Linked DNA regions of Homo sapiens. The protein of the gene in region 1 interacts with the protein of each later gene in a pairwise test. Each region holds a gene or a part of one and is shown in the gene's direction. Other genes may lie near its edges. The genes, in order: TMEM254, TMED8 and SLC16A2.

The links.
Region 2: the proteins of TMEM254 (region 1) and TMED8 interact in binary tests that used the Homo sapiens proteins (3 or more experiments, as listed by UniProt).
Region 3: the proteins of TMEM254 (region 1) and SLC16A2 interact in a two-hybrid assay, tested with the Homo sapiens proteins (one large-scale study listed by BioGRID).

The regions. Positions count from the first base shown.
Region 1 is NC_000010.11:80,088,569-80,090,928, forward strand, and holds part of TMEM254 (transmembrane protein 254), read left to right. Parts: intron 1-1,811; coding exon of another isoform or gene 1,812-1,844; exon of another isoform or gene 1,845-1,863; intron 1,864-2,228; coding exon 2,229-2,349; 3' UTR 2,350-2,360.
Region 2 is NC_000014.9:77,336,762-77,339,211, reverse strand, and holds part of TMED8 (protein TMED8), read left to right. Parts: 3' UTR 1-2,450.
Region 3 is NC_000023.11:74,531,855-74,534,483, forward strand, and holds the end of SLC16A2 (monocarboxylate transporter 8), read left to right. Parts: 3' UTR 1-2,062; downstream 2,063-2,629. UniProt on the Homo sapiens protein: Specific thyroid hormone transmembrane transporter, that mediates both uptake and efflux of thyroid hormones across the cell membrane independently of pH or a Na(+) gradient.

The DNA.
Region 1 (2,360 bases):
ACACATTGTTGTTACATTAATTTCCAGCAACTTCTACTTTGAGATGTTATTATAAATGACTTTTTTTTAAAAAAAGATGGAGGGTCTCCAGGAGGCTGAGGCAGGAGAATGGCATGAACCCGGGAGGCCCCGGAGCTTGCAGTTAGCTGAGATCATGCCACTGCACTCCAGCCTGGGCGACAGAGCAAGACTCCGTCTCAAAAAAAAAAAAAAAAGATAGGGTATCATTATGTTGCCAAGGCTGATGTCAAACTCCTGGGCTCAAGCGATCCACCTGCGTCGGTCTCCCAAAGTGCTGGAATTACAGGCCTGAGCCACCACACCTGGCCAACTTTTGTTGTTGTTTTTGTTTTTGTTTTTTGAGATGGAGTCTAGCTCTGTCGCCCAGACTGGAGTTCAGTGGCATGATCTTGGCTCCCTTTGTTTCATTTCATTTTCTAATTGTCTGATGGTACTTTGTATGAATATAGTCAATTTTTTATATTGACCTTATACCCAGCAATCTTGCTAAATAAATTTATTAATTGTAACAGTTTATAGATTATTTTCAGTTTTTAGGTATAAAACTGTCCAGAAATACAGTTTTATTTCTTTCTTTCAATTCTGTATACCTTTTATTTATGTTTCTTCCCTTATTCTACTAGCTAGAACTTCCAGCAGTGCTGACTAGAAGTGTGCCTTGTTCTTGACCTCAAAGGAGAACTTTCAACATTTTGCATCATGTTTATTATAGAGTTTTGTAGATCTCCTGTGTCAAAATTAGGAAGTTCCATTGTATTTCTAACTTTGCTGAGAAGTTTTATTAAAAATGGATGTTGGATGTGGATGCAGGTGGCTCACACCTGTAATCCCAGCACTTCGGGAGGCTGAGGTGGGAGAATCAGTTGAAGCCAGGAGTTCAAGACCAGCCTGGGCAACAAAGCAAGACACTGTCTCTACAAAAAACAAACAAAAAACCTAGCCAGGCATGGTGGTGCGTGCCTGTGATGATCCCAGCTACTTGGGAAGCTAAGGTGGGAGGATAGCTTTAGCCCAGGAGTTTGAGGCTGCAGTGAGCTATAATTGTACCAGTACACTCCACTGTAGGTGACAGAGTGAGACCCCATCTCTGGGGGGGTTGGAAAAAGAATGGATGTTGAAATTTGTCAAATGCAGCCGGGCGTGGTGGCTCACGCCTGTAATACCAGCACTTTGGGAGGCCGAGGTGGGTGGATCACGAGGTCAAGAGATCGAGACCATCCTGGCTAACACAGTGAAACCCCATCTCTACTAAAGAAATACAAAAAATTAGCCAGGCGTGGTGGCGGGCTCCTGTAATCCCAGCTACTCGGGAGGCTGAGGCAGGAGAATGGCATCAACCCGGGAGGCAGAGCTTGCAGTGAGTCAAGATCGCGCCACTGCACTCCAGCCTGGGTGACAGAGCGAGACTCCATCTCAAAAAAAAAAAAAAAAAGAAATTTGTCAAATGCCACTTCTGCATTTATTAAGATATTCATATGATCTTTCTGTTTTAATCTGTTACTGTAGAAAATTATATTGCTTTTACATATATTGTTTTTAAAGTTTGTTTTAAATAAAAGTCATCCAAGTGAGACTTATTTATGTACAGATGAGACTGTAGCAAGCCATTCCCTTCCATTGGGTCATCTTTTTTTTGCACTTCATTTTAGGCAGTTGAATTTGAATGACAATATAAGCAGGTGTTTATCATGACTGTGTGCCAGGCTCCTTCCTGAGCATGTTGTGTGTATTATCCCATAAATCATCTCAACTGACTCAGTGAGATAGCTACTGCTGTTCCTGTTTTTCAGATGAGAAAACTGATTCTGAGAGATTCTGAGTGATTTGCCCAGGTCACAGCTGGTAGGTAGCCACGCTAGGATTTATATCTGGTCTATTTGCAAAACATTTGCTCTGAAACCATACCAGTGCTTTTTACTCCATCCGCTCATCAGAATCACATGAGAAACAGTCTTATAATACTGTGCCCTAGACAGTAGCCAGACTAGTTCTCAGGGAATAGTTTACCATCCAAAATACATTTGTTAGAAAACAAGAAAGATGAAAAATAAATGAACCATCCAAGATAAGCCAGAGAAAAGCAGCAAAATAAACCCAATGAAAGTAGTGGAAGGTATAATTTAAAAAATATATATATAGAAGACAATAACTCCCATGAAACTGTAAGATTAACATCTCGTGTTTAAATTTTGTTTTTTCTGTTTTAGGCATAAAGGCATCACAAGTGGTCGGGCTCAGCTACTCTGGTTCCTACAGACTTTCTTCTTTGGGATAGCGTCTCTCACCATCTTGATTGCTTACAAACGGAAGCGCCAAAAACAAACTTGAAGTTGTCTGAA
Region 2 (2,450 bases), on another chromosome or scaffold:
TGTCTAATTCACTATTTTCATGTTACATTTCTGAAATAATTGAACTTTAGGGGCAAGATACTACTTACTGAAGCACAGGTAATTACTGAGAACCCACAGCCCAGCAAATTCTAAGAGACAGTCATTTCCTCAGCCCCTCCCAGTCCAAATTTATAGACCCAAACAATGAAATGAAAACCGTTTGCTTTGATCCTCACCCTGTTCTCTAGAGCACAAACAAATAGTAACAAACAATTGAAAGAAAGTGCTTCATAGTAGGAGAGAGATTGGAATTCTCTATAGTGACTGAGTTCTTAAATTTCTTTAGTTTTAGTTTTGCCACTTTGTTGAGAGATGGGCCTTTTAGAAAGGAAGACATATTTAAAGTATTGATTTCTTTTCCCCCAGTGTTTTATTGTGAAAAAATTTCAGCAAACAGCTTAAAAGAAATATAAATATATTGTAAACCAAAAAGTATCTGAGACAGGTCTCAATACATTTAGAGGTTTATTTTGCCAAGGTTCAGAGCCCATGATGGGGCCTCAGGAGGTTCTTAGAACATGTGCCCGAGGTAGTCGGGTTACAGTTTTATACATTTGAGGGAGACAGAAGGTCCAGGCAAAGCCATAAATCAATACATGTAAGGTATACACTGGTTTGGCCTGGAAAGGCAGGACATCTTGAAGATGGGGGTTTCCAGGTCAGAGGTAGATCAAAGAGTTCCTGACTGGCAGTTGGTTGAGAGAGTTAAACTTTACCTGAAAAGATGAAGTCAGCTTAAGTTAAAGTAAGGGAGGCTTGGCTTAAGTCATGTAGATGAAGCCTCCAGGTAGCAGGCTTCAGAGAGAACAGATGATGAATTTTTCTTTTTAGGCCTTAAAAGGTGTCAGACTCTCCAGAAAAGACCTAATAAGAGAAGGAGATTCTCTACAGAATGCAGTTTCCCCCACAAGAGACAGCTTTGTAGGGCCATTTCAAAATACGTCAAATAAATATATTGGGGGGTAAATTTCCTTTGGGGCCTGCTGTCATGTGATGCTATACCAGAGTCAGGTTGGGATTTGGTATTTTATTGCCACAAAGGGTCTGTTTGGTTAGTCTTAAGATCTCTGTTTTAATGTTAATGCTGGTCAGTTGTATTTAAATTCCAAAGGGAAGAGGGTAATATGAGGCACCCTGTAATCTGACCATAATATGAGGCACCCTGTCTTCCCATCATGGACTAGTTTTTCAGGTTCCTTTGAGATCCCCTGGGCCAAGACAGGGGTCCATTCAGCCGGTTGGGGGATTTAGAATTTATTTTTGGTTTGCTGTATATATATGTATACACACACTCCCCGCATAAATGTAAAAATTTTAAACTACCAATTCCTAGGCAAAGATGATTCTAACATTCTGTTCCTTTTGACAAGTGTCCAATTAGAGAATGCTGAGAATGTCCCCTGCATATCGGCTCTGTTGGAGAGCCCCTGATTTTTAGCAGACCTGTTTCATTCAACATGGGTTACCCAGGAGGTGGTCTTCATAAAAATGTTTCTTGGAGGCCAGGCGCCGTGGCCCACGCCTGTAATCCCAGCACTTTGGGAGGCCAAGGTGGGCAGACCACCTTAGGCCAGGAGTTCGAGACCAGCCTGGCCAACATAGTGAAACTCCGTCGCTACTAAAAATACAAAAAATTAGCTGGGCGTGGTGGCGGGCATCTGTAATCCCAGCTACTCTGGAGGCAGAAGCAGGGAGAATTTCTTGAGCCCAGGAGGCAGAGGTTGCAGCGAGCCGAGATCATGCCACTGCACTCCAGACTGGGCAACAGAGCAAGATTCCGTCTCAAAAAAAAAAAAATTGTTTCTTGGTCTCCATCTTTCAAGAAAATACATCTGTGCTGTATTTTCCCCTTCCCTCAGGCCATGATCTCTGCTGTTTTCCTTACTAACTGGCATGTCAGTACAAGAGTGATTGTGAAGCTGCTCCGGAAGGGCTTTATGCTAACCTCTGTTGCTTGATGACATGTCCTCAGGACTCTGATATTAAAACTCAATCCTTAGATAACAGGTAGCTTTATCATGGAAGTAGGTAGCAATTTGGAATTAGACCATTCTTAGTTATTTTTTTCTTAATGAATTGATACATGCACTTTAAAAAATATTTTTGTTATTTTGGGAAGAAAAACTCAGACTTTTAAAAAAGTGTATATTGTCCCATTATAATATGTATATGGAAGAGTGAAATCTGAACGCTGTCTTATATTAAGCAGTAGAATTAGGTATTATCATAAAAAGTCTTAATCTGTAGGGAATATGAGTTTATGTTTATGAGTCCTGCTCAGTCCCTCTTTGAGAGAATTAGTTGAAACCCAGACTCTAAAGTCTGCTTTTATATTTGTTTGTTAAGACCACTTATCTGCAGAAGGTTGCCTTTTAACCCCAGTGGTTCTAAGGTGTGGAATTGAGTGACCCTAATATTTACATAAGAGA
Region 3 (2,629 bases), on another chromosome or scaffold:
TGGGACCTCCTGGACCCAGCTTGTTAGTCACCCACTATAATCAACTGCCAAAGGTGCTACTGTGTCCCCAGGAGCCTAATAGGGTAGGCCCAAATCTCTGTTTGCTGAGGAGGTCATTGCCATCCATATTTGGGAGCCACTGGGTGGAGGGGCAGGGAGGCAAAATGAGACAAGTAGCCTTGGTTAGTCTTAGAGTTGCTGATGACTGTGGCTTCCCAAGAACTGGGTACAAGCAGTGCCCTTATTGTATGGTTGGTTAACAGTCTGCTCCCCTCTTCCCTTCCTTCTTTTTTTCCTCTACTGACTTCTCTCCATACTCTTTCCCCTCTATTTCTTTGTATGACTGTCATAGACACATGGGTGCTTGAAGAAAGGAGGGACCCGGAACTTGGGCCAATCAGCCTCACCTTGTCCCAGTCCACTCCTAACACTAGCATCAGTCCCACTCATCTCAGGCTGAGCCACATCTCACTTTTTCGCTCAAGCTATATAATCCTAGACTGGAAGAGTAGAATATCATATAGGGAAGAAACCTTAAACACCACAGTGTTCCATGTTCCAGTCACTGATTTTTACAAATCTTACAGTCCAAGGCATTAACCTCAAGGCCCTCCCAGCACCCCATTCTTGTATACACATGGCAAAATGTGAAGAAACTCCTTTCATCTCAGCAGGTAGAGGAGGACTGATGACACGAGCTGCCATGGCGGGAGGAGGGGCAGTAGTTATTGATATGGTGAGCCCCATCTCTCAGTTTTCATGACAGGTCTATATTTCTACCTGGGCCAGGCCAGGAAAGAGACTATTTAAGAAAAAAAAAATCAATTCCTAGCCTGGATCCCAAAAAGGTACAGGCAGCAGTTGCACATAGGGTTGGAAAATTTCTTTTGGGAAGGGGAAGCCATCCCAGCCTTTACCACCCAATGTGTCTCCCATGCTGGGCATCCTAGGCCACTTTGCTTAGAGGGCATTAAAGGTGCCATGAAAGGTAGACTCTGAACCACTTTGATCCCTCTGAAGTAGGTGACTGATGCCTCCTTATGCCCAGGCTCTGGCAACAGTCTTACTGAAGAACATTCCCAGTGCCCCTGGCTAGGGGCAGAGGGCACTGCCAGGCTGTGTTCAGTTAGCACAGCTCACCTCATTAGGAGCTCAGCCTCTCTCCTCACTCTGCCTCTTTGTGTCTCTTTTTCTCCTCTCTGAGCCTTTGTCTATTGTGTTCCTGTCACCCACCCTTTCATCATCTTTTTGCCAGGCATTCCTGGCTGTCACTTGGAGCCAACAGTAACTTGCCACCTTAAGGCAGGGTCATCCCCGGGCCAGGAGGATGAGGTTGTCCTGAGGGGCTCCAAAGAAGACAATAGTTCCCACTCATGATTTTCCGTTACAAACAGGCAGCTGGGGCATGGTTGGCCTCCAATGATTTCATTCAAGGCCAAAGTCCTGAGCCCCCTCCGCTGGTCCCAGTCCAGCTCTTATCAACTCCCCAAAGGAAAACCCACTGGTTCTTAGCTCTGTGGGTAGGAAGGGGCCCTAGAAAGGGCCTAGTTACTATCCTGTCAGTTCTAACAGTAGTGGAACAGGAGAATCTGGGCCCTAGGAGCCCTGTAACTCCCAGGAGAGACCACTGAAAATACTGGAGCAACAATGCCCCTGCTTCCATTTCTCCCCACCTCACTCTCACCAAGTCACCAGAGGGTGGTTCTGTAGGACCTCTTTTGTTGCTTAAGATGCAGATGGCTCTTAAGAATCAGGCAGTCGCCCACTTCTCTCCAGATGAAGGGAAGACATTCATAGGTCCCAAATCTGCCCATTCAGATGTCACATAATATGGTGGGATATCAATTTACTTCTTCCACACATGTGGTTGTGCACATGTGAGCTTGTGTGCTTTTGGAGAGAATGTTGATTGGCAAAAGCAGCACAGTATTAATATTTAGAGTAGGATGCAGCCTCTTATGCACCACAGTTAAATCTAGAACGAACAAAATTTCAGAGCTCAAGACATGGGACATTTAAATCCTCAAGGAGTTTGGAACAAAATAAACAGATCTAAAAATTTGGTTTGGGTATGTATGTTGCCTACAAGGAAGAAATAGTCTTAACCTGATTAATAGCAGAAAGTTTGACTTCAGAGCTGAAGTCTCCTTTCAAATCAAATTTCTGCCAGGTTCTATGCTCTCTGTGAGAGCAGACATTAGAAAAAGAGCTATATAGGGGTTTGGAGTTGGTTGACTATTTGAGATTGGATTTTTAAACAAGCTCTGAAGTGGAAAAGTGGTTACTTCACAAAATGAGAATGTGGTTACTTGCTGAGTTGGAATGGAGGCCCCACCAAGGCCACAGCCTTGCTACAAATGTGCCATATTGAAAACTGGCATTAATAATAATCCAATTCAGCTCTCCTTCCCTCTCCCTTATGTTATTGATGGGGAACCTAAAGGGACTTATATGGCTGGCTGACACAGCCTGGCAGTGACAGAGCCTGGAATTAAGGATGATGCAGGAGACAGACCTATAAGAATGACAAAGCTGAGAGTAACCTTAGAGTCTCCCTTGTCCATCCTGTGCATTGAATTTAAGTGGAGAGACTGAGGCCTAGAGGTAGGAAGAGACTGCAGTAGGTTCA